Homo sapiens: one gene and its partners. The protein of the gene in region 1 interacts with the protein of each later gene in a biochemical or structural test. Each region holds a gene or a part of one and is shown in the gene's direction. Other genes may lie near its edges.

Region 1 (4,833 bases):
GCCTTCACTCTCAGGTCCTGTTCTCAAAAATCTCTCCATCCCTTAGCTCACAAGCTCAGGAGCGCCGTTCTGGTCTGGGCCCAAACGCTGTCCACACCCGCTCACCTTTGATGTCAACAATGTAAGTCTCCTTTCTAGGGTCTTCTGGGGTCAGGTGGAGGGTGAATAGGTGGGAAGGAGGTGGCGGCTCCCCACTCGAGGGCTGATGTGCTCACCCTTCCCTGCCCTGCCTTCTCCTAGCCCCTGCATCTGGACTATGTGATGGCTGCTGCCAACCTGTTTGCCCAGACCTACGGGCTGACAGGCTCTCAGGACCGAGCTGCTGTGGCCACATTCCTGCAGTCTGTGCAGGTCCCCGAATTCACCCCCAAGTCTGGCGTCAAGATCCATGTTTCTGACCAGGAGCTGCAGAGCGCCAATGCCTCTGTTGGTGAGGGTGTTTGGCCAGTTGGCCAGGAGTCACCCCACATGTCCCCGGCCTAGTCCAGCCTCCCCACCAGTCCTCTACCCCTGGTTCTGCTCTGCTCTGTGACCCCAGGCCTGAGGTTTACCCACACCTTCCTTTGAGCCTCCCTTTGACATGAAGAGGGTAGGTTGGGGCAAATTATCTCCCTCCCTCCTCCTCCTTCCCACTATCTGGCCCTCAGGAGAACTTGCTGTTTTACTCTTGCTCTGTGTATTTCCCTTAGTTTTGTTCTTTCTTCTGTTTCTTCTTGATCTGTTCATCTAGGAGGTATGATCTCTACCAGCAGTCTCTCTCCCTTGATACTTTCCTGCCTTGTCTCCTTCCAGATCCGCCCCCATCTGTACATCTACCTGCATGTTTCTCTGTGCATCTTCACCCTCCATAGTTTGGGGCTGCGGTTTACTGACACCCCCACCCCACCCCATCTGCATATTTTTTCACCACCCCTCCCTTCTGTATATGATGCTTCTGTAGCTCTGTAACGCCCCCTACATTTACCTTCCTTATATCTCCCCCGTCTTCCTCTCCATAGATCTCCTCCCATTTCCCCTTCCATGGTCCCCATCTTCCTTCTGAAATGTCTACTCCTTCATGTTCCTTTATGTATGTCTTCCAATCTTTCCTTCCATAGCTCTCATCACCTTCATATATTTCTTCCATCTTTCTCCTCCCACCTGCCTCGCCCTCTGTATATACCCCCACTCTCCCCCTTTTATATCTTCTCCATCTCCCCCCATATCTTTCCTCTATGTCCACATCTGTGTATTCCCCCCAACTTCCCCTCCATATATCTTTTTTACTCCCCTTTTCCTCCCTGTATCCTCTGTGTTCCCCCCATCTTGCTCTACATCATTCTTCCCAAGATCTTTACGTCTCCCATCTTGATCTCTCCATCTCCACTTTCTCCTAACATTTTCATTTCCGTTCCTTAGTGTCTCTAGAGAGATCATTCTTGATAGCCTCAGCTCTTTCTCTGTGTTTTTCAGGTTTGTATTCTGCTCTGCTCTACCTCTCCTCCTTGCCCCTTTTCTCTCCCAGGATGTCTCTCCTTTCCAAATCCTTTTTGTACCTGAATACCTTTTGCCCCACCCTGGGCTCTCATTTCCATCTCAGACCTTAGCCTGGGATCTAAAGGGCTGACAGTGTCCCTTTCTTCATGCAGATGACAGTCGTCTAGAGGAGCTCAAAGCCACTCTGCCCAGCCCAGACAAGCTCCCTGGATTCAAGATGTACCCCATTGACTTTGAGAAGGTATGGGGTGGGGCTCAGGACAGGGAAGGAGGATGGGCAAAGCATAGACAGGCTGGAGAAAACAGGAGTATCTGGAGCCAGCCCCGGGCCTTTGTGGGGATCAGATTGTGGGCCTGCCATATGGCTCTGAATGAGTAGGTGTTCCCAGCCATCCCTTTGTGATCTGGGAGAGTCCAGCAGGCAATTGCAGTGGAGGATACACATCTTCTTTATCTGATCCTCTCCCCACTGCCTTCACACCCTCCCCACTCATAACAGGATGATGACAGCAACTTTCATATGGATTTCATCGTGGCTGCATCCAACCTCCGGGCAGAAAACTATGACATTCCTTCTGCAGACCGGCACAAGGTGAGGGGAATCTAAATCTGATGTTCCACCCTCCTCCAGGTTTGAGTTACCCACACTTAGCCCCTCTGTAGACCCTGAGGCTCTTGTACTTAACTACCACCTTCTTTTGTCCCTTCTGTCTCTCAGAGCAAGCTGATTGCAGGGAAGATCATCCCAGCCATTGCCACGACCACAGCAGCCGTGGTTGGCCTTGTGTGTCTGGAGCTGTACAAGGTTGTGCAGGGGCACCGACAGCTTGACTCCTACAAGAATGGTTTCCTCAACTTGGCCCTGCCTTTCTTTGGTTTCTCTGAACCCCTTGCCGCACCACGTCACCAGGTGGGGGCCTGCATCCGAAGCAGGGTTTGGGTGGGGTGTATCTGTGTAGATCTGGTTCTGATTCACGTCATACCCTGTCACCAGGTGAGGGTTTCTGTCTGTGTACCTACCCTTTTTGTGTATCCTTTTTCACTTATTCATTAATCACATTATTTGAGTACGTGCGAAAAGATGGGATATTTGAATTGTGCCCTGGGAGATTATTAGTAACTACACAATAATGGCAGCCAAAATTTATTGGACGCTTCCTACACTTAAGTGCTTTGCTTGCTTCATTAATGAATTCACTCAAATATTTATTGAGCACCTTTTGTGTGCAGGGACTCTTCTAAGTTATGTTCCTCAAGTAGATTATATAAATAACCTATTAAATGATTTTGGAATCAAAAAAGGATAAAAAGAGGCCGGGCGTGGTGGCTTACGCCTGTAATCCCAGCACTTTGGGAGGCCGAGGCACGTGGTTCACCTGAAGTCAGGAGTTTGAGACCAGCCTGGCCAACATGATGAAACCCTGTCTCTACTAAAAATACAAAAAATTAGCCAGGCGTAGTGGTAGGCACCTGTAATCCCAGCTACTCGGGAGGCTGAGGCAAGAGAATCACTTGAACCCGGGAGGCGGAGGTTGCAGTGAGCCAAGATGGCGCCATTGCACTCCCGCCTGGGTGACAGAGCGAGACTGCATCTCAAAAAAAAAAAAAGATAAAGAGGACTTGAGAATACCAGGGGGCGAGGGGATGTATTTGAGATTTTGTGTAGGATGGTCAGAAAAGGCCTTGCTGAAAAGATGACATTTGAGATCAGACTTGGAGGATGTAAGGGGACAAACTGTGCAGGCTTGGTGGCGAGTGGGGACACATTCCAGGCAGAGGGACCAGTTCTTGAAAGGGTACCAAGATAGGGGTGTGCCTGGCAAGTTGGAGGAATTCAAAGTCCCCAGAGTGAGTGTGAGATTGAGGAGGGTAGGAGATGAGAAGAAAACAGAATTTCATTGCTTAGGGTGAGATAGGAACCACAAGAGGATTTCGAACAAAAGAGGGTTGTGATCTGACTAAACACGTCTGCATGGGGGTAGGGGGGATGGAGACAGATGGGGGCTGGACCCTCTGGGATGGTCTCCATCTTACACTCCCCTCTTTGTCTTGCAGTACTATAACCAAGAGTGGACATTGTGGGATCGCTTTGAGGTACAAGGGCTGCAGCCTAATGGTGAGGAGATGACCCTCAAACAGTTCCTCGACTATTTTAAGGTAAGGCCCCTCCCTTACTCTGTCACCCCACCTCAGGGGGCGAGGTGTACACGGTGACTTGCTGGCCTGTCCACCTCCATGACCCTGCTGTTCCCCCTCCCTCTCCAGACAGAGCACAAATTAGAGATCACCATGCTGTCCCAGGGCGTGTCCATGCTCTATTCCTTCTTCATGCCAGCTGCCAAGCTCAAGGAACGGTTGGATCAGCCGTGAGTTGGACACTGGCCAGGCTAGGGGAGGCCCTGTATGGGTTGGGGAGCCTCATCATCCAGCTGTCCCACTCCAGTTCACTGCCCCTACCTACCTGCCCATCCTCTCTTGCTTTCTGCCCTCCTGACCCTATACTCCCATCCCCCTATCCCCAGGATGACAGAGATTGTGAGCCGTGTGTCGAAGCGAAAGCTGGGCCGCCACGTGCGGGCGCTGGTGCTTGAGCTGTGCTGTAACGACGAGAGCGGCGAGGATGTCGAGGTTCCCTATGTCCGATACACCATCCGCTGACCCCGTCTGCTCCTCTAGGCTGGCCCCTTGTCCACCCCTCTCCACACCCCTTCCAGCCCAGGGTTCCCATTTGGCTTCTGGCAGTGGCCCAACTAGCCAAGTCTGGTGTTCCCTCATCATCCCCCTACCTGAACCCCTCTTGCCACTGCCTTCTACCTTGTTTGAAACCTGAATCCTAATAAAGAATTAATAACTCCCACATCGCCTGCCCTGCTGGTTCCAGGGAAGGAAGGGACTTCCTGGAGCTGTCTGGTTCAGATGATAACTCAGAGGGCTCAACCCCACCACACCTGCCAGTTTTCTGGACAAAGAAAATGTAATTGCCACCTCTTCCTGCCCTCTCTGCCTAGGAAGAGATGGAGGCACCAGTGAGGCCATAGTGAGCAGGTACTTGGGTCCATGTGACTGTTAATTTGAGCTGGGTTCAATTCTCACCTTCTCCATGTCCTAACTCCTTGCTCTGTGAAGAGGAAAGTTACGGTGACCAGGCTGCTAGGGCATGGCCAGCGTGCCTTATGTCCTTAGGGCAGATCCCCTCCCACCTGGCTCAAAGCACTCAGACCCTGGGCAGCCTTTTGTGGTCATGGTTCCCAGCACCAGGAATGCCTGTGCTGCTCTTAGTTCAATTTCCTTGCTGCAGGGGTGTCTTAAACAGCTCTGCCGAATGCCAGTGCCTGCAGGCATACTTCGTGATTTTTA
Region 2 (7,033 bases), on another chromosome or scaffold:
GAGAAAATAATGGGTTGCAAGTTGTAATATTTGTGCATAAGTCTGGGAAAGGAGTGTGGAGAACCCTCTCTGAAATAGGAAGTATGGAAGGATTCCTTGTGTTAATACACTGATTTAAATTAAATGCTTCTGAACTTCAGTCCTTGTTTAAAAGAATGATTTAATCTCGTGCTTTGTGATGTTAGATTTCTTAAGCTTTGAGTGTTTTTACCTTTAATTCTGACATGTATGAAAATTTGTAAACAGGTTTTATGGTTTAGTCTTGTGTGAGAAGTTTGTTCGATTGTATTTTCGACTACTTTTTCCCTTATATGGCCTTTTATCCCATTAGTTGTTCATTAGAAAAAGGCAAATTTATGGTCATGAGCAGTTGACACTGGGGATATGTTTAAAACCATTGTTTTTATTTTACTGCTTTTGTCTTAAGACAAGGCTTTTAGTGTATTTCACTACAGCTGCAGTTGAAAGTTGGCACAAAGCTTTCCCTACCATATCACTCTTCTCCCTTATTAAATGTTAGTCCTTGAACATTTAGTATAATTTATTTTCAAGTTAAACTCTTTTCCCTTTTTGGCATAGTCATTCGTGAAGGCAGTGGGACTGCCAGTCATTCTTTACATTTTTCATACTGTAATTCCTTTAACTTTTATATATTAATAGGTTTCTAACTGATCTTTTTCACCCTGAAATAGTTGGCTCTTGTCTCTTACCCACAGGATCTGCATTGGAGATTTGTGAGACCTGTATTTCACAGAATTTTTTTATTCATCCTGCTTTCGCTTATTTAATATCGCCAATCCACGTGATTCTTAGTTTTGGGCCATATAGATGTAGGATGGGCAAAGATAGTTTCTTCTGTCCATTCTGAATACTATACAATCTTTTTTGGCCTTACTATCTTTTTGTGTAGTTTCTTATTTTGCTACCTAAGCAAGTCGGAATTTTATTGTTACTAGAAAAATAAATTGTGGATCAAGTCAGTAGCTAATGAAGACTTTTAACAAGTTCACCCCCTTTCTTTTGAAAGGAACTTTTTCAGGGTCTTTCTCTGTCACTTAGTTTGGGGTACAGTGGTGTGATCATGGCTCACTGCAGCTTCCACATCCTAGGCTCAAGCAGTCCTCCCACCTCAGCCCCCTGAGTAGCTGGGACTACAGGCATGACTACGCCCGGCTAATTTTTTTTTCTTCAGTATTGTTAAGTGAGGTAGGGTCTCACTATTTTGTCCAGGCTGGTCTCAAACTCCTGGGTTCAAAGGATCCTCCTTTCTCAGCCACCCAAAGTGCTGGTTTTACAGGCGTCAGCCACCATGCCCGGCTGGAACTATCTTTTCAAATAACTCCTGCTAAGGATTGTAGCTTAGTGTGGGTGCTTTAGTACTGAACCTCCTTGGAACTTTTGCATTATTTATCTAAAGCATTATAGCAGTGAGTCTAGAGCCAGAAAGAGTGCCTCTTTTATGATATGCATAACAAAAAAAAATTTTTTTTTTTTTTGAGATGGAGTCTCACTCTTTTGCCAGGCTGGAGTGCAGTGGCACGATCTCAGCTCACTGCAACCTCTGCCTCCTGGGTTCAAGCGATTCTCTTGCCTCAGCCTCCCGAGTAGCTGGGATTACCGGCGTGCGCCATGAAACCTGGCTAATTCTTTTTGTATTTTTAGTAGAGACAGGGTTTCACCATGTTGGCCAGGCTGGTCTTGAACCCCTGACCTTAAGTGATCTGCCCATCTCAGCCTCCCAAAATGTAATCCTAATTAGAGGCCTGAGCCACCACTCCTGGCCAACCTTTTATAGTTTTGATTTTATTAAATAATTTGATTGAGGTAATGAAATATAGATGTGTTCCATTTTTAGAAAACTCCAGTCTGATAATTTAGAAAGTATTTGTTGTATACTTAAAGTTTTCCTTATTAGGAACATCTTTATTAGACTCAACACTGACATATATATATATATATTTTTTTTTTTTGAGACTGAGTTTTGCTCTTATTGCCCAGGCTGGAGTGCAGTGGAGCGATCTCGGCTCACTGCAACCTCCGCCTCCTGGGTTCAAGCGATTCTTCTGCCTCAGCCTCCTGAGTAGCTGGGATTACAGGCATGCGCCACCATGCCCAGCTAATTCTGTATTTTTGGTAGAGACGAGGTTTCTCCATGTTGGTTAGGCTGGTCTCAAACTCCTGACCTCAGGTGATCCCGCTCACCTCAGCCTCCCAAAGTGCTGGGATTACAGGCCTGAGCCACCACACCTGGCCTACACTGACTTACATTAAAGAAACTCTTCAAAACCTTTTTTTTTTTTTTTTAAGAGATAGGGTCTCACTTTGTTGCCCAGGCTGGAGTGCAGTGGTGTGATCATAGCTCACTGCAGCCTGAAACACTTGGGCTCAAGGGATCCTCTTGCCTCACCCTCCTGAGTAGCTGGGACTGCAGGTGCATACCACACTCGTTTTAATTTAAAAAAAAAATTGTTTATGCAGAAAGGGTCTCATAGGCCAGGCTGGTCTCGAACTCCTGGCTTCAAACAATCCTCCCACCTTGGCCTCCCAAAGTGCTGGTGTTACAGATGTGAGCTACCACACCCAGCCAAATAATTTTTTTTTTAATAAGAGAATATGCATTATTTCCTATGCTTCATTTGTTTTGCAATGAATGAATCTATTTTCTGCCTTCCCTCTTCCCCCTAAAAAAACAAACCAGACTTAGCCTAGATCTGGCAATGTCATTTAGATATTTTATTTCTTTTTTTTCTTTTTCTTCTTCTTATTAATTTTTTTTTTTTTTTTTTAGCTGAGTCTCGCTCTGTTGCTCAGGCTGGACTGCAGTGGTGTGATTTCGGCTCACTGCAACCTTTACCTCCTGTGTTCAAGCAGTTCTCGTGCCTCAGCCTCCCAAGTAGCTGGGATTACAGGCGTGCACCACCATGCCTGGCTAATTTTTGTAATTTTTAGTAGAGATGGGGTTTTGCCATGTTGGCCAGGCTGGTCTTGAACTCCTGGCCTCAAGTGATCTGCCCACCTTGGCCTCCCAAAGTGCTGGGATTACAGATGTGAGCCAGTGTGCCCAGCCTATTATTATTATTTTAGAGACAGAGTCTCGCTATGTTGTCCAGGCTTGTCTTGAACTCCTGGGCTCAAGTAATCCTCCCGCCTCAGCCTCCCAAAGCACTGCGATTATAGGTCTGAACCATTGCACCCAGCCTATTTTATGACTCTTTAATTGGTAAAATATAGTTGAAAAAAAATTTTTTTTTTTCCTAGATGGAGTCTTGCTCTGTTGCGCAGGCTGAAGTGCAGTGGCGCGATCTTGGCTCACTGCAACCTCTGCCTCCCGGGTTCAAGCAGTTCTCCTGCCTTAGCCTCCCAAGTAGCTGGGATTACAGGTGCGTGCCAGCACGCCCGGTTAATTTTTGTATTTTTAGTGGAAACGGGGTTTCACCATGTTGTCCAGGCTGGTCTCAAACTCCTGACCTCAGATGATCTACCCGCCTTGGCCTCCCAAAGTGCTGGGATTACAGGCATGAGCCACCGCGCCTGGCTGAAAAAATTTTTTTAGGAAAATGATTGTTTGCCTTTTTGAGACAGGGATTCTTTTGAGAAATTGAAGAATTTTCTCAGAGAAAATGGGTACACGTAAACTAATTTTATGTATCTTTTTCAGAGGGTTTACTGCCGATGAGCTAAGAATCCTCTTGTAAGGTATTTGGATAGGCAACTTAAAGACAATTTTAAACAGCTCCTTTAAAATTATAAAACGAATGCTCTTTTATTCCCCCATTTCTCTCAGTTAACTTTGAAACTACCTCTTAGGGCATTTAGCTGTCTCTTTCTGGAAGATGAAGTTGTCTTGAGTACTGGGTGAACTAAGGTAACGTTATAAATGGAAACACAGTTAAGGTCTAAGGGTTTTGGAAACTAAATGAAGTTTCACTTTTTGTTGTTTCTCAGAACATTTTTCAAACCAAATATGATGCCTTAGTTTTTCATAGAATATGCTTTTATCCTGTTTAGTTGATTACAAGATGCATATTTTTCTACCTTTTAACTTCTTTTTGATTAAGAAATTTCTTAGATGGCCAGGTGTGGTGGCTCATTCCTGTAATCCCAGGACTTTGGGAGGCCGAGGCGGGTGGATCACCTGATGTCAGGAGTTCAAGACCAGCCTGGCCAACATGGTGAAACCCGGTCTCCACTAAAAATACACAAATTAGCTGGTGTGGGCCGGGCGCGGTAGCTCATGCCTGTAATCCTAGCACTTTGGGAGGCCGAGGCGGGCGGATCACGAGGTCAGGAGATGGAGATCATCCTGGCTAACGTGGTGAAACCCCATCTCTACTAAAAAAATACAAAAAAATTAGCCAGGCATGGTGGTAGGCACATGTAGTCCCAGCTACTTGGGAGGCTGAGGCAGGAGAATGGCGTGAACCCGGGAGGCGGAGCTTGCAGTGAACTGATATCGAGGCACTGCTCTCTAGCCTGGGCGAGAGAGCGAGGCTCTGTCTCAAAAAAAAAAAAAAAATTAGCGGGTGTGATGGTCCGCACCTGCAGTCCCAGCTACTTGGGAGGCTGAGGCAGGAGAATTGCTTGAACCCAAGAGGTGGAGGCTGCAGTGAGCCTAGATCATGCCAGTGTACTCCAGCCTGGGCAACAGAGTGAAGCTCTGTCTCAAAAAAAAAAAAAAAAAAAATTCTTGGAATCCATGAAGTCTTGTAATTGCCATCAGCCAAGTGGTACTTATAACCTAGTTGTGAGAGACCATTTCATTGAAATCTTTTGGTAAATTTTTTTTTAAATACCAGTTTCAATGTCATAGATTTGCTAAAATAAGGATTATTTCTTCCTGGATTGAAGGATTTAGGTCCTAATTAATACTCTGCGTTGATTCTCCTTTTTTCACCTTTTGTGTCAGGAAAAATTTTTATTGAGGACTCATTAAAGGAAAAGCAAATTGTAGGAAAAGTCACTTCCTTAAAGATAGTAAGTGAAAGTATTAGGACAATGATAACCTTAGAGCTTTTAAGAATGATCGGCCAGGCGGTCGCCTGTAATCCCAGCACTTTGGGAGGCAAACAACAAAAACAAAAAGAATGATCTTCATAAAAGCAAAGCTTTTTTTTTTTTTTTTTTTGAGACAGAGTCTCTGTTACCCAAGCTGGAGTGCAGTGGTACAATCTTGGCTCACTGCAGCCTCCATCTCCTGGGTCCAAGCAATTCTCCTCCTCAGCTTCCCGAGTAGCTGGGGCTACAGGCGTGTGCCACCATGCCAGACTAATTTTTGTATTTTTAGTAGAGATGGGGTTTCACCATGTTGGTCAGGGTGGTCTCAAACTCCTGACCTCAGGTAATCCACCCACCTCGGCCTCCCAAAGTGCTGGGATTACAGGCATGAGCCACCACACCTGTCCAAAAGCAAAGCTTTTAAAGCTTTAAGGCTAGTTAGACCATTTTTCAACATAATGATAAAATGTTCTGTTCCATCTTTCCAACTTAATGGTCAGTTGGAGACACGTGAGAGAAAGGAGACCATCCAGCAAATTAGGCTACCTCTGATAATCTAGTTATGGAAAAATAACAGTGAGGAAAAGGTATAAATTCAGAGTTTAGGACTACAGATTTCCATCTTGCTTAAAGATTATATTGAAAAGGTTTAATTCTTTTATGTTTCTGAACTTCTTTTGAACTGCTTCACATACGACTACAGAGATATCTGAGTTGGTTGGATGCAGTGGCTCATGCCTGCTCACACCTGTAATCCCAGCACTTTTGGGAGGCGGAGGTGGGCAGATCACTTGAGGTCAGGAGTTCAAGACCAGCATAGCCAATATGGTGAAACCCCATCTCTACTAAAAATACAAAAAGTAGCCGGGTGTGGTGGCATGCGCCTGTAGTCCCAGCTACTTGGGAGGCTGAGGCAGGAGAATCGCTTGAACCCAGGAGGTGCAGGTTTGCGGTGAGCCAAAATCTTGTGCCACTGCACTCCAGCCTGAGCAACAGAATGGGACTCTGTCTCAAAAAAAAAAAAAAAAATCCTACAGAGATTCCTGAGTAAAATTTAACCTCTTTGATTGTGTTAATATCAACTTTATTCAGCAAGAAATTGTTATTCAGAGATTATGCTTATGTACCTCAAAATTAGTTGACTCTGAAGTGAATGGAATGATAGATACTAAGTTGAAGAGGTAAATTTAGTTCACATCACCAAGGTTTGATGTTACTTAAATGATCTTCCACATGATAATTGGAAAATTCAGGTGTTGGAATATGTATTTAAGATGCAAAGTGGCTAGGAGTGGTGGCTCACGCCTGTAACCCCAGCACTTTGGGAGGCCGAGGCAGGCGGATCACGAGGCCAGGAGATTGAGACCATTCTGGCTAACACGGTCAAACCCCGTCTCTACTAAAACTACAAAAAATTAGCAGGGCATGGTGGCACGTGCCTGTAGTTCCAGCTACCCGGGAGGCTGAGGCAGGAGAATGGCTTGAATCCAGAGGCGGAGAGGTTGCAGTGAGCTGAGATCACGCCATTGCACTCCAGTCTGGGCAACAGAGTGAGACTCTGTCCCCTGCCGCCCCCTCCAAAAAAAAAGAAAAGTGAATAGTCCACTTTAAACACCTTTATTTGATTTAGTAACAAATACATATAAAAATGTTTTGGTTATTGGGTGGGTGCAGTGGCTCACGATTATAATTTTTACCCAGCACTTTGGGAGGCAGAGGTGGGCAGATCACCTGAGCTCGGAAGTTCGAGACCAGCCTGGACAGCGTGGTGAAACCCCACATCTACTGAAAATCCAAAAATTAGCCAGGCATGATGTCGTGAACCTGTAGTCCCAGCTATCCGAGAGGCTGAAGCAGGAGAATCTCTTGAACCCAGGCCAATCGCTTGAACCCAGGAAGCGGAGGCTGCAGTGAGCCGAGATCGCGCCACTGCGCTCCAGCCTGGGCGACAGTGAGACTCTGCCTCAAAAAAAAATAAAAAGGTTTTGGTTATTGTCTTATTATTATTATTATTTTTTGACGCTGTTCGAATAAAAAA
Region 3 (7,033 bases), on another chromosome or scaffold:
GCATGCTGCCATGCCCCGCTGATTTTTTGTATTTTAGTAGAGATGGGGTTTCACCGTGTTGCCTAGGCTGGTCTCGAACTCCTGAGCTCAGGCAATCCACCTACCTCGGCCTCCCAAGGTGCTAGGATTATAGGTGTGAGCCACCACACCCGGCCAATAATCTCTTAATTGGCTTGGCTATTTGAGAGTGTTAAAAAGTTCATGATTTCACATTTCTTCACTATGAAAAAGAATAAAGATGATTGGATTAAAATTATATGTAAAGACAGAGCATGGAGATATCAATGCTTAAAATATATTTTTATAGTAGAATAAACTAACTATACTAGAATATACTAAATGATTTAATGCTCTGATTTAGTGTGCCAGTTTTGCATTCCAGCTCATAAATTTACACACCCATGCCCTATTTTTAAATAACAGTGAAAGATGTTATCGCAGTCACCTAAATCATTAAAAGAAAAAAAGTTTGAACAAAGTCTAAGGAAAGATACCTAAAACATGTCTGAAAAGAGGAGGACAGTTTTTCACCTAGGTATCTATTTTCTAGAAGTAATTTCTAAGTTGTTTCTTCTATCAATACTATTTTCATTACTTGAAACACTTTTTTTGGGGAGGATTATTTTTTAAATTACAGGTGTTAATATCCCAATACCAAATGTTTTGAAAACTAAAGGGCAAAAAAAAGGAAATCCTAAAACAGTCATTGTCATCATCATAGATTTTATTTGATAAAGAATTTGAGGTAATGAACATCATACTAGCATTATGTGATGTGATGTGATGTGATGTGATAAGTTTATTTACATTTTTGTCTTTTGAAAAGTGAGGCAATAGAGTTCCGTTTTACAAACATAGCAACTCAGAGAACTATTCCTTAGTGTGTAATTCTGGCCCCCAAATGGAACATTAGTTGTTTTTGTTTTTTAATAATCAATGTAATCTGAAACATATATAGAGAGACATAGATTAAAATCAAATTTGATAAATGTTTGAGCTGCTGAATTTTTTTGATTTGTAGAATTTTATGTTAAACTGTTTATGTCAGTCTAGAAAACTTTAGGATACTTAACCCAGCCCTCTATGGACGGAGCATCAAATGGAAGAAGGAGGTCTGAGTTTTTTTTGTTTTTAGACAGGGTCTCACTTTGTCACCCAGGCTGGAATGCGGTGGCACAATCTCGGTTTTCTGTGACCTCTGCCTCTGAGGCTCAAGTGACCCTCCCACCTCAGCCTCCTGAGTAGCTGGGACTACAGGCCTGCATCACCACACCTGGCTAATTTTTGTATTTTCAGTAGAGATGGGTTTTCACCATGTTGGCCAGGCTAGTCTCGAACTCCTGACCTCAGGTGATCCACCCGCCTCAGCCTCCCAAAGTGCTGGGATTACAGGCGTGAACCACCTCACGCAGCCAAAGGTCTGGTTTTTATTCCTGGCTGTGTGGCTTACTAGCTTCGTACAATGAGGCTAGTACATATTTTCCATACATTTCCATACAATGGATATGTATGGATATCCATACATATGAGGCTGCTGATCTCAAAAACCAGGGTGTTTGTAATCGTTACTCTGCCTTCTAAGTACTTGACATATATTAATTGACTTAATTCTTAGTATACCCAAGAGGTAGAAACAGTGTTATTTCCATTTTACAGATGATGATACTAAGGCAGGGAAATATTGAGTAGTTTACTCATGATCACATTATCTAGTAAGTGACAATGCTACGATTCCAAAACAAACAGTTGGCTTCAATTCCACATTCCTTTTTTTTTTTTTCAGTCTTAGAATCTTTTATTTAATACCTTCTCATGCCCAGTTAACACAAAAATAGTTGCAGTTACATATCGCTACTGAAAGCTACCAAACTGCCTATCTGAAGAGAGAGTCAAGGATCCTTCTCTTCCACTTCTTAGGAGAGAATGATAGTTTTTGGATGTTGAAGAGAGCATTCACTGAGATTACTGAACTCACCAGATATACTATAAAGCTTTCTGTCTAATGTAGCCAGTAGCCACATGGAAACAAATTGGGTATGAAAATTTAGTTTTCAACCTTGAGCTTTATGAAATCTAAATATAGATCAAATATTGCTGACGAAAATTTAGTATCCAAATTGAGATGTGCTGAAGTGTAAAATATGTACTGGAATTTGAAGACCTAGTATACAAATCTAAATAATTGTTACTAATGAGATATTTATAAACATTTTTATATTGATTAAATTTTGAAATGATGACATTTTGGATAAGCCACCTAGTCAGGCTAAGACTCATTTTCTTTCTCTGTAAAATGAAGGAGTAAACGATATCAGAGTACTACTTGCCTTATTCTGTCTTTACATTCAGGTTCTAGAAACCAGACCATGGGCAGAGCATTTTCCTCCTTGTTCAGCAGAGCAAATTTGTGGGCTTTTAAAGATGGTAACATTGTTTCTTAAATCACTTTCCATAATTTAATATCAGTAATCTGTTTATAGAAGAGAACAGCCACATTCCCTGACAAAGTTTTGTATGACTTTACTTTTTATTTTGCTTTTAAGCTTGGCTGTAATATTATTACTGAACCTGTGACACTTCACTTAAAATGTCAAATCCTTTAGTGGAGAGAGTGTTATTTCCTTGTCTTAATCTTTTTATATGCCAATGATTGTGCCCCCTAGGATAGCAAATAAAATCTGTCAATAAACTGACTGAACAATGCTATCCAATAGAAATACAATGTGAGCTACATTTTAATTTTAAATTTCCTAGTAGCCACGTTTTTAAAACGGGAAGTAGAAGCAAGCAAAATTAAATTTAATGTGTCTTATGTAATTCCATATTCTTAACCACTTCAGTACATAGCTTCTCTTATCCACATGAACTCGTATCTATTGTACTTAAACTGGAAGACATAGAGTCAAATGGGTTTATGGGATATAAGTGCTTTGCAAACTGGAATGTTCTATACAAATGTAAAGTGGTGTTATAATTAAGACCTTGGCATATTTGATCATTTTCACTGACACATTGCTCAAATGTGTTGATTGTGCTTCGCAAATCTCTGCTCCAAAGTAACACATGCTGAGATCGTTTAACATTGTAAATCAGTAATATAACTTTGATCATCTTTGTTTCATCACTTTGAATTTCTCTCCTCCAAAAGGATTTTGAAACATTGGTTGTAGTTCATAAATGCTCTGTCAAAAGTATCATTGCATTGTGAAGTTTTTATTTGAGATAACTTTTTGAATTGACAGAGTCATTTAGTTCCTGTAGTGGTTTTGAGTAGTAAACTGTTCATATTATGAGATTAAATCCAAGACTCCAGTTCTTTCTAGAAAGAATGATACAACTTAAAGAAGCACGGTATTTATGCATTTTGGGATAAATGGTTTTCCTTGAGATGAGAGCGAGATAGTGTTCTTTCTCTAATAAGCCACGATGTAAATTTTTTTTTAAATCTTTGTAATTAAGCTCAGTCTTTCTTTTGTCCTTGATACTGTATTTTTCTTTCTTCATCGCAATAGAGGTATAAAAAAATGAGGTAACCTATGACAGTTAAAAAGTTCTGAGATTTCTTCTCTGTGGAAATAAATAGCCTAGAACTAAATAAAGCTGTTTATGCCTATTTTAAGAAGCCAGGCACATATGAAAACCAAACCTAGCAGGATGTGGGATTGCCTCCAGGAAAGCAAAATAGCGTCCTTACTCGCTTTAGTTCCCTGAAATACGCATAGAAAACATATGGGCCCTTTATTTTCATTTAATGAGTGCTACTAATAGAAATGATAAACCTAATATTTAGCCATAAAACTGAGTTAATGGTCATCTACTAATGTAATAGTCCCTGCCTTTTTAATAGTGAATAAACTGATTACATTGAATTAACAACAGGAATTGAGATACTTATCCTCTCTCCTCTCCTGTGAAATGCTGGAATAAATGATACTAGAATATATAATATGACCATATTTGCAGTTTGGGAATTGGAGGGGTAGGTCCTCAGGCCACCTTAGCACATGTGTCTGAAGGCAGGACAGGTTTTATTTCTGGCCCATCTTGGTCTTGATGGTCTCTGAGAAGCTAAGGTTTTTCTGTGCTTAATTTGGTTCTGAGATGAATCTGTGAAGGTTCAGTTTCACACATTAGACAATAACAGGCTGTTGTGTTCCAGGATTGTCCTTAGTATGGGGAGGAAGCTGCTATCTAGAAGCATACAGTCTAGTGCTGTCCATTCCACCATCATGCTCTGCATCCTCTTGTCTTACCTCTTTCTGGATGTATTTCCCACTGTCCTCTATTCATATGGTCCCGTTTGTATGGCTCATCTCTTTTAGTGACACCACAGTTCTTATTTAGATTCCTGGGTTTTTTTTCAGACTTAAGAAACTTCTCCAGTGGGGGTGAGCTGAGGAGTTGGTTCCTTCACCTTAAGCTTCCTCAGATAATAATCTGATTGTTCTCATTCTAGGTGGCCACCCTCCTTATGCGAGCAGAGTTTGGGAGTAGTATGGTTGGATTGTCTAGAGAAAACCAAGTGGACCTAACAAATGGTCTGGGTTCATTTTTCTTCTCTTCTCTTAAACCAGGAAATCTCTGGCTTGTGTTTTTGCTTCTCCCAAATTTTGCTGTATTTTGTTTTCACTTAAATTTAAAGATATTTTCTAGTTTTCCTTTTTATCTCTTCTTTGACCCTTGGATTATTTAGAAATACGTTATTTATTTGCCATATGTTTGGAGATTTTACAGATAGCTTTCTGTTGTTGATTTCTAATTCCATTATGGTCAGAGAACAAATTCTATTATTATTTGACTCCTTTTAAATTGTGGGTACTTGTTTTTTTTGGTTTTTTTTTTGTTTTTTTTTTTTTGAGATGAAGTTTGCTCTTGTCGCCCAGGCTGGAGTACAGTGGCGCGATCTCGGCTCACTGCAACCTCTGCTTCCTGGGTTCAAGCAATTCTCCTGCCTCAGTCTCCCAAGTAGCTGGGATTACAGGCGCCCACCACCACACCCAGCTAATTTTTTGTATTTTTAGTAGAGACAAGGTTTCACCATGTTGGTCAGGCTGGTCTTAAACTTCTGACCTCAGGTGATCCACCTGCCTTAGCCTCCCAAGTGGGGACTTGTTTTATGACCCAGCCTTTTCAGGTGCTCAACAGCACTTTTGAATGAATGATGGTTAATAGTTTGTAGACTTCATTTTGGTATTTTCCAGTTGGTATCTATTGACTGTAGGTTATTTCTAAGAAATGGATGCCAAACTAAGGTGTACACCTTCCCAGTATCTTTTTTTTTCTCTTTTATGAGTTTCCAAACAGTTTAGTGAATAATAAACATCCACTTTTTAAAATGGAATAGAAAATATTAGTGCTTTGCATATAGTAAGGGTGTTGTTTCATGAAATTTGTTTTAGTGTGTGTGTGTGTACTAGGTTGTAATGTAAAATCTTTTTCATATTATAAATTGCTGTAAGGAAAGCTGGAAAATCACTGTTCCATAACATAAGATCCTTAGGTAAAATTAATGTTAAAAATACATGCCATACAACCATACATATACATGTATACATATATAGGGAGAGCAAATGAATACATATACACATACACAGAGACACACAAATATATTGATACACATATACACATAATGTAAACTGTTCTAGCCTTGGAAACGTTTGCATTTGATACAGACCGTATGCATTGTTTTCTTCTACAAGTAGCAGCATTTTAGTGACTGATGTACAACCATAATATTCAAGAATAATACTGGATGATACTAACAGAGAGTAGAGAATTTATTATGAAACACTCAAGTGCCCACTATATGCCAGTTATTAGGTATAGAGCTGTAAGAAGCAATATTTAATAACAAATATTTGGTAGGTATTGGTAGGCATGTTCATGTTTTACACACGTTTTAATAAATAGGCAGCTAGGTTTTCTCTCTTTTTTCTTCCATCTTTTTTTGGTTACTGTAAAGTAAATAGTAAGTTTTGATAATGGAGCACTCAAAATGCTCCATTTGCATATTTTATGTGAAAATTCTATTTATTTAAGTTGTGTATAATTTCCTGTAAAGTTTTTCTTGACTCTCAGAGTGTCTTTAAACACAACGCTCCTGAAAGCTTATGAAATAGTATTCGTTTCTAACCTTTTATATGATATAAGCTCCTGAGAAAAGATAAGAATTCCTTCTCATTCCTTCACTTATCACACTTTTGTTTCTCTGGAGCATAGCTAAAAATGTGCAAATGGCCTTAATACAGTACTGGAGCATTGTTTGCTTCAGTGTTGGTTGAAAATAATGTGCTCTAGCTGTTACAGTGTTGAGGTGAGTATTGAATTGGGGTGGGAAGAGTGCTGGAGTAGAAGTCAGATGGTCTGTCCCTTTGTCCTAGTTTGGCTTTGTGACCTTGGCCAGGAGACTCAGTCTTTATACTCCTCACTTGGAAACTTAATGGATTGAACTTGATACTTTCTGTCATCTCTTCTGAATCATAATTTTAGGCAAACCTAAATAATGTATTTGCTGTTTTTTTTTTTGCAGCAAACAACAGTGATCACAAAAACAAACACTGAGCTTTGGCACTGTGCTATGGAGCTATATTAGACTTGACTTAAAATTCCATTTACTTTGAAATATCAGATTTGAAATAAATGTTGACATCTCTTAATGTATAAGGTCAATAAATCTTATTCTCTAACTAAAGAGCAATTATTTATGATGCAAATAAAATGTATTTCTATTATTGCACTGGTAACATAACGTGGTTCTCTAATTCCATTTAGCTTTTCTCTATTTGTTAGCTTTTGTACTTAAGATTGTTTTATCCACATATTTAGACAACTGCCATACACAGCTGCACAGCTGCCTTATAGGTAATAGTTTTTTTGTTTTTTTTTTTTTTAATGACAAAGTCTGGCTCTGTCACCCAGGCTGGACTGCAGTGGCATGATCTCAGCTCACTGCAACCTCCACCTCCTGCGTTTAGGGGATTCTCATGTCTCAGCCCCCTGAGTAGCTGGGTCTACAGGTGTGCACTACCATGCC
Region 4 (7,033 bases), on another chromosome or scaffold:
GACTGTTTTTTTTTTCTTTTAAAGGAAGAAAAATTATTGATACAAGTTGATAAACAGTCTTTTCAGTACATAGGGTGGTAATAAAGTGATTTTCGTTGGTGAAAAGTTGGGGCTTAGTGCATGGAACAGTGCCTTAGGCATAGCAATCTAGCAAATGTTGAATGATCAAATTAATTACATCTTAAAGAACTTTAGATTTCTGTTAAAAATGTTTTCTAGGACATTCCACAGCAAAGATTTCTTTGTAACAATGGACTGTCTGCAGATAGTGTAAAACACATTATTAAAAGTAGAGTGATTTACATATACTACACTGAGAAGTTATTTTAGGCAAAGTGAGTATGATAAAGTCTTTTATTTCAAAAGCACTTGCCAGGAGGCTTAACCTCTTTTAGAAGCCTTTTTAGGAATTACAGTGTTAATAAAACATTAAGTACATTTTAATTTGCAAGCAGCTAATTTAGCATTGTTGGCTACAACCAGATTGTAACCATTGCTTCAATCAGGATGGGGAAATTGCTGCAAAAGCCAAAAGTGAAACCTTTATGTGTGGCTTAGGCAACTGATTGCCATCTGATCATTTCTTTGCAGCTTCACACTGCACACATTTCCCCTAAGGGCCCTCCTGTTGAGTAGCTTCCCAGAAGGGCTTTTCTCAGAGGGGAAATCTGTGGATTTAGAGGGGTGTGTGTGTAATGTCTTATTACTTATCATGACATAACTGTTGAGTTAAGGAGTTTCACTCTTGTTGCCCAGGCTTCAGCGCGATGGCACGATCTCTGTGCACTACAACCTCTGCCTCCCAGGTTCAAGCGATTCTCCTGCCTCAGCCTCCCAAGTAGCTGATACTATAGGTGTGCACCACCACTCCCTGCTAATTTTGTATTAGAAAGGAGGTTTCACCATGTTTGCCATGCTGGTCTCTAACTCCTAACCTCAGGTGATCTGCCCGCCGAGGCCTCCCGAAGTGCTGGGATTACAGGTGTGAGCCACTGCGCCCAGCCTAATGCTATTTAAAAATGTTCACTCAGAACTTCATATTGTTATATTTTCTCCCAGTTCATAGTCATAGTAGGAGGAACCTCTAAAAGTTCATTCCTTGGGTTTCGTTGTATTAAGCAGTGAGGTAGTTTGCTTTTGAGTATAGGTTTAGATTCTGAGGTTGGGTGATTAAGGAGATAGAGCAATGAGTATGTCACATGTTTCAGGAGGTGAGGGGAGTTTTATATGTGATGTTATGCCAGTGTAAATGTCCTGAATCCACTGAGGCTTTGTGAATTGAGAAAAACGTTGCGTCTTTTTTTCTAAATTCATGCATTCCAGTAAGTTGGGACTGTTTCAGCCTCCCTTAATGGTATTCTTTGTAAATGTTTGGGACAGGTGATGGGAAGGAGTATACTCAATTATTGCAACATTTGGGACCTTTTAAGGTATTTACTAGAAAACTCTGAGGCAGGCCAGGCGTGGTGACTCACACCTGTAATCCCAGCTCTTTGGGAGGCCGAGGTGGGCGGATCATGAGGTCAGGAGTTCGAGACCAGCCTGGCCAACATAGTGAAACCCCCGTCTCTACTAAAAATCCAAAAAATTAGCTGGGCGTGGTGGTGGGTGCCTGTAATCCCAGCTACTCGGGAGGCTGAGGCAGGAGAATTGCTTGAACCCGGGAGGCAGAGGTTGCGGTGAGCCAAGATTGTGTCATTGCATTCCAGTGCGAGACTCCGTCTCAAAAAAAAAAAAAAAAAAAGAAAACCCTGAGACAAAAACTCTTGTCTCAGGGTACTGGGGCCTTTTCTGATCTTGTTAAAACTCTAAATTAGGAGACTGTTGCTTTAAAATTTTATTATAAGAGGACACTTGAAAGTATTCTCATTTTATTGGAACATTTATTACGTTTAAGATATTTCTATATTCTTTGCTACAGCAGTAAATGTGAGAGCCACATTTCTTTGCAGCTTCACACTGCACACACACTGCACACACTGTGCACATTAGAGAGCCACAGAGACGTTCCTCCTGAGCCAGACTCCAACCACTTCCAGAGTTTTCTTGGGAACGGCACATAGATCTGTAGGCATCTGAGTCTTAGCTCCTCCTGTGACTCTCTCCCTCTGGCCCCATGCATCTCCTCCTGTCCCACCTTAGTTAATGGTTCACTTGTCTACTCAGTTGCTCAAGGAAAAAACGCCAGCGGAGCCCTTCTCGGCTCTTCCTCCCTTGTCTAGTCACCTGGCGGATTCTGCTGAACTATGCCTTCAGTCTCTCTTCTCTGCCTGTCTTCTCTCCATCCCCACTCCCACTCCCAATGCCACTGCCACTCCCACTGCCTCAGTTCAGGCCATCCCTGTTTGTGGTAGACACCTGCATCGAGCTCCTTAATGGTTCATCTAAACTCCTTACTGGTCAGCGCACTCTCTGTCCCACACTACTCCTAACCAGCAGTGCATCAGAGTAGTGTATGGTGTGGTGTGCAGTAGAGAAGTGCACATGAGCAGGCCCTGCTCTCAGAGATTGGAGCAGAATTTAGTAGGGTGAGGATGAGGCTGGGACTCTGGATTACAAGTGCACATTCCTTAGCTTTTTCCTTCAAGGTCTTGTCTCACCAGCCTTGTCTCTCCCCACTTGCCCGTTGAGTCCCCTAAAAACAGCATGCTTTGCACACACACTCTGGATCTCGTGATTGGCATCCCTGTCTCTTCTCTGTACCAGGGTAACTTTTTGACCTTTGAGACTCAGCTCAAGGGGCAATTCCTCTGCCCTTGAGGAGCTCAACAAAGGAGAAAAATGGCACGTACCTGGAACAAAGAAATCCTGGGCTGGCCACTGTGTGCTAGATGTCTGCCACCTGAATAATGGCTTGCAGGAGAGGGAAAGACCCCCTCTGACACTGAGGAGGAGGTCGAACTTGGCCTGGCCCTTTAAGCACGAGTAGGGTTTCAGCAGTTGAAGAAGACGGACTGGGTGGCCAGTGAGGTTGAGTCTCTCTCATCCCTCAGGAGGGCTGTGGGCAGTGCCTATGGGAAATGCTTTGAGGAGCCCCAGAGACCATCTGCCTACTCCCCAGTGCTGCTTGCGTCTGACCTTGTGCCGTCCCGCTTTGGGTTTTAGTTAGGCCAGCCCCTGAGATGCTTTCCAGAAGTGTTGAGGCATTGGCTTGATTTTACCCCAGATTGGCATGTCCAGTGCACCTGGTTCCTCCAGAGCTAGGAGACCTCCCTCTGCCAGGCCAGCCTTGGAGGGTGAGCTACCTCTCTATAGAGGGGTCACTGAGGGCAGTGCTGATGGATTTAAGGACAGGTGGCAGAGATGCCATAGCCTTTAGGTTGAGGGGCCAGATCTACATATCTCCTGGATGCTACAGCTATCCAGGAGAAGTGGCATGCCACTCACTCAGAAAGGGCTTTGCATGTATCTCCTGTGGCCAGCTTCATCATGCCTGTTCTTGGGGGACATAAATAAGCCTAACCTCCCCAAGCCCCCCACCCCTATAAGAAAGGGAGGAAGGGGCTTTTGCTCAGAGCAAAGCTGTTTAGAGGAAGACTACAGCATAGCAGTTAAAAGCTCAGGTTCTGGAGTTTCAATCCTGGGCCTGCCATGTCTTAGCTGAGTGACCCTGGGCAAGTTACTTTACCTCTCTGTGCCTTAGTTACTTCGTCCGTGTGTGAAGGTTAAATGAGTTAATATATACCAACTGCTTAGAAGAGTGCCTGGCATATAGTAAGTGTGAGCTACTTGTAGATATTATTGGGAATAACCAAGACATGTTCCAGGGCAGGGAGGTGACCAGCCTGACAGGAGGGGAGGATTTGGAGGAGTGATAGGAGATGGTATTGCAAAGGTGTTTTCGGGACAGGTTGGGGCCAGTCTGCCTGGACATACCCTCATCACTGAGAGCCCATTCTCTTACCTGTGGTACTCTCTTATTCTGTAGGTTGGAGAAAGAGTTACTGAGACAGCTGTGTGAATGTTTGTTTAAAAATGTTGGCTGGGGGCCAGGCGCGGTGGCTCATGCCTGTAATCCTAGCACCTTGGGAGGCCGAGGTGGGCGGATCATGAGGTCAGGAGATTGAGACAATCCTGGCCAACATGGTGAAAACCCATCTCTACCAAAAATACAAAAATTAACCAGGCCTGGTGGTGCGTGCCTGTAATCCCAGCTACTAGGGAGGGGGAGGCAGAAGAATTGCTTGAACCTGAGAGGCAGAGGTTGCAGCGAGCTGAGATCGTGCCACTGCACTCCAGCCTGGGTGACAGAGTGAGACTCTGTCTCAAAAAATGTTGGCTTGGCGCAGTAGCTCACACCTGTAATCCCAGCACTTTGGGAGGCTAAGGCAGGTGGATCACTTGAGGTCAGGAGTTCGAGACCAGCCTGGTCAACATGGTGAAACCCCGTCTCTACTAGAATCACAAAAAAATTAGCTGGGTGTGGTGGCATGTGCCTGTAATCCCAGCTACTCGGGAGGCTGAGGCAGGAGAATTGCTTGAACCCAGGAGGCAGAGGTTGCAGTGAGCCAAGATCATGCCACTGCACTCTGGCCTGGGCAACAGAGTAAGACTCCATCTCAAAAAAAAAAAAAAAAAAAGAAAAGGAAAAAGAAAAATGTTTACTTGGCTGGGCGTGGTGGCTCATATCCGAATCCCAGCACTTTGAGAGGTCAAGGCGGGTGGATCACTTGAGGAGACCAGCATGGGAAACATGACGAAACCCCATCTCTACTAAAAAAAAAAAAAAAAAAATACAAAAATCAGCCGAGTGTGGTGGTGCATGCCTGTAATCCCAGCTACTCTGGAGGCTGAGGCAGGAGAATCGCTTGAATCCGGGAGGCGGAGGTTGCAGTGAGCTGAGATGGTGCCACTGCGCTCCAGCCTGGGTGATAGAGCGAGACTCTCGAAAGAAAAAAGAGAAAAGTTTACTTTTCCCAACAAAGTTGAATAGCTTTTTTTTTTTTTTTTTTTTTTTTTTTTGGAGACGGAGTCTCACTCTGTCACCCAGGCTGGAGTGCAGTGGCACCATCTCAGCTCACTGCAACCTCTGCCTCCCATGTTCAAGCCATTCCTCCTGCCTCAGCCTCCCGAGTAGCTGGAACTACAGATATGCGCCACCATACCCGGCTGATTTTTGTATTTTTAGTAGAGACGGGGTTTCTCCATTTCCCAGGCTGGTCTCGAACTCCTGCCCTCAGGCGATCCACCCACCTTAGCCTCCCAAAGGATTACAGGCGTGAGCCACTGTGCCCAGCTTAAAATTGAATAGCTCTTGAACTCAAAATTTGTCTTTCTAATATCTCAGAAATTTACCTTGCATATTGTAAACATCCAGTGTAGTGTGACAGTCACTGTGTCCAAAGATGAGCATAGGTGCTATGGAAGGCTCCCACAGGTGCTGAACTGGGGCAGGGGTGGAGGTTTGAAAGCAACTTTTTTTTTTTTTTTTTTTTGAGGCGGAGTCTCGCTCTTTCACCCAGGCTGGAGTACAATGGTGTGATCTTGGTTCACTGCAACCTCCGCCTCCCGGGTTCAAGCAATTCTTCTGCCTCAGCCTCCTGAGTAGCTGGGATTACAGGCGCACGCCACCACGCCTGGCTAATTTTTGCATTTTTGTTTTTTTTTGTTTTTTTTTTGAGATGGAATCTTGCTCTGGCGCCCATGCTGGAGTGCAGTGGTGCGATCTCGGCTCACTGCAAGCTCCACCTCCCAGGTTCACGCCATTCTTCTGCCTCAGCCTCCCGAGTAGCCAGGACTACAAGTGCCCGCCACCATGCCCAGCTAATTTTTTTGTATTTTTAGTAGAGACGGGGTTTCACCATGTTAGTCAGGATGGTCTCGATCTCCTGACCTTATGATCCTCCTGCCTCGGTCTCCCAAAGTGCTGGGATTACAGGCGTGAGCCACCATGCCCGGCCCCCAATTTTTGTATTTTTAGTAGAGCTGGGGTTTCACCATGTTGGTTAGGCTGGTCTCAAACTCCTGACCTTGTGATCCGCCCACCTCGGCCTCCCAAAATTCTAGGATTACAGATGTGAGCCACTGCGCCTGGCCGAAAGCAACTCTTGATTGAGAAGTTGAGGTCTCAGATGTAATATTCTTGCTTCTTGTCTTCTCTTTCCTTTTTTTTTTTTTTTTTTTTGAGACGCAGTCTCGCTCTGTCGCCCAAGCTGGAGTGCAGTGGCACGATCTTGGCTCACTGCAACCTTCACCTCTGGGTTCAAGCAATTCTCCCTGCCTCAGCCTCCTGAGTAGCTGGAATTACAGGCGTGTGCCACCATGCCTGGCTAATTTTTTTTTTTTTTTTGAGATGGAGTCTCGCTGTGTTGCCCAGGCTGGAGTGCAGTGGTACAGTCTTGGCTCACTGAAAGCTCCGCCTCCTGGGTTCACGCCATTCTCCTGCTTCACCCTCTCGAGTAGCTGGGACTACAGGCGCTCGCCACTACACCCAGCTAATCTTTTGTATTTTTAGTAGAAACGGGGTTTCACCATGTTAGCCAGGATGGTCTCGATCTCCTGACTTCATGATCCACCCACCTTGGCCTCCCGAAGTGCTGGTATTACAGGCGTGAGCCACCGTGCCTGGCCTGATTTTTGCATTTTTTAGTAGAGACGGGGTTTCATGGTGTTGGCCAGGCTGGTCGTGAACTCCTAACCTCAGGTGATCCGCCTGCCTCAGCCTCCCAAATAGCTGGGATTACAGGCGTGAGCTACCGCACCCAGCCCTTGTCTTCTCTTTCAACCTTGAAGCAGAAAGTTAAGAAAGTTGCTTCTGGTGGCTGTGTAGTTTCTCCTTCTGACCCTTGCTGCACACATACTCTAGAATTCCAGAGCTGTGTGAGGGATCTTGGAAAGCAGACACCAGTGGCCTCTGTTTACAGATGAGGAGGCTGAAGTCAGTGGTGGAGCCAGGCCCAACATCAAGGTCCCCTGCTCTCTGGGCCTTGCTCCTGCTTTTTAGATGGTTGCTTTTGGTCTTGAGGAAGGGACAAGATGGAGAAGAAGAGGGTTCATTTCAGATTCGGTGGCTGTTTGGGTTTTGTTTGTTTTG

Evidence for each region.
Region 2: of the proteins of UBA1 (region 1) and UBE2R2, one has a biochemical effect on the other in vitro, tested with the Homo sapiens proteins (5 studies listed by BioGRID, with this or other methods).
Region 3: of the proteins of UBA1 (region 1) and UBE2D1, one has a biochemical effect on the other in vitro, tested with the Homo sapiens proteins (8 studies listed by BioGRID, with this or other methods).
Region 4: of the proteins of UBA1 (region 1) and UBE2L3, one has a biochemical effect on the other in vitro, tested with the Homo sapiens proteins (24 studies listed by BioGRID, with this or other methods).

The regions. Positions count from the first base shown.
Region 1 is NC_000023.11:47,210,796-47,215,628, forward strand, and holds the end of UBA1 (ubiquitin-like modifier-activating enzyme 1), read left to right. Parts: intron 1-46; coding exon 47-121; intron 122-240; coding exon 241-430; intron 431-1,628; coding exon 1,629-1,717; intron 1,718-1,975; coding exon 1,976-2,068; intron 2,069-2,194; coding exon 2,195-2,386; intron 2,387-3,531; coding exon 3,532-3,633; intron 3,634-3,741; coding exon 3,742-3,842; intron 3,843-3,998; coding exon 3,999-4,134; 3' UTR 4,135-4,333; downstream 4,334-4,833. UniProt on the Homo sapiens protein: Catalyzes the first step in ubiquitin conjugation to mark cellular proteins for degradation through the ubiquitin-proteasome system.
Region 2 is NC_000009.12:33,820,139-33,827,171, forward strand, and holds part of UBE2R2 (ubiquitin-conjugating enzyme E2 R2), read left to right. Parts: intron 1-7,033. UniProt on the Homo sapiens protein: E2 ubiquitin-conjugating enzyme that accepts ubiquitin from an E1 ubiquitin-activating protein, and catalyzes its covalent attachment to other proteins by an E3 ubiquitin-protein ligase complex.
Region 3 is NC_000010.11:58,337,992-58,345,024, forward strand, and holds part of UBE2D1 (ubiquitin-conjugating enzyme E2 D1), read left to right. Parts: intron 1-7,033.
Region 4 is NC_000022.11:21,570,698-21,577,730, forward strand, and holds part of UBE2L3 (ubiquitin-conjugating enzyme E2 L3), read left to right. Parts: intron 1-7,033. UniProt on the Homo sapiens protein: Ubiquitin-conjugating enzyme E2 that specifically acts with HECT-type and RBR family E3 ubiquitin-protein ligases.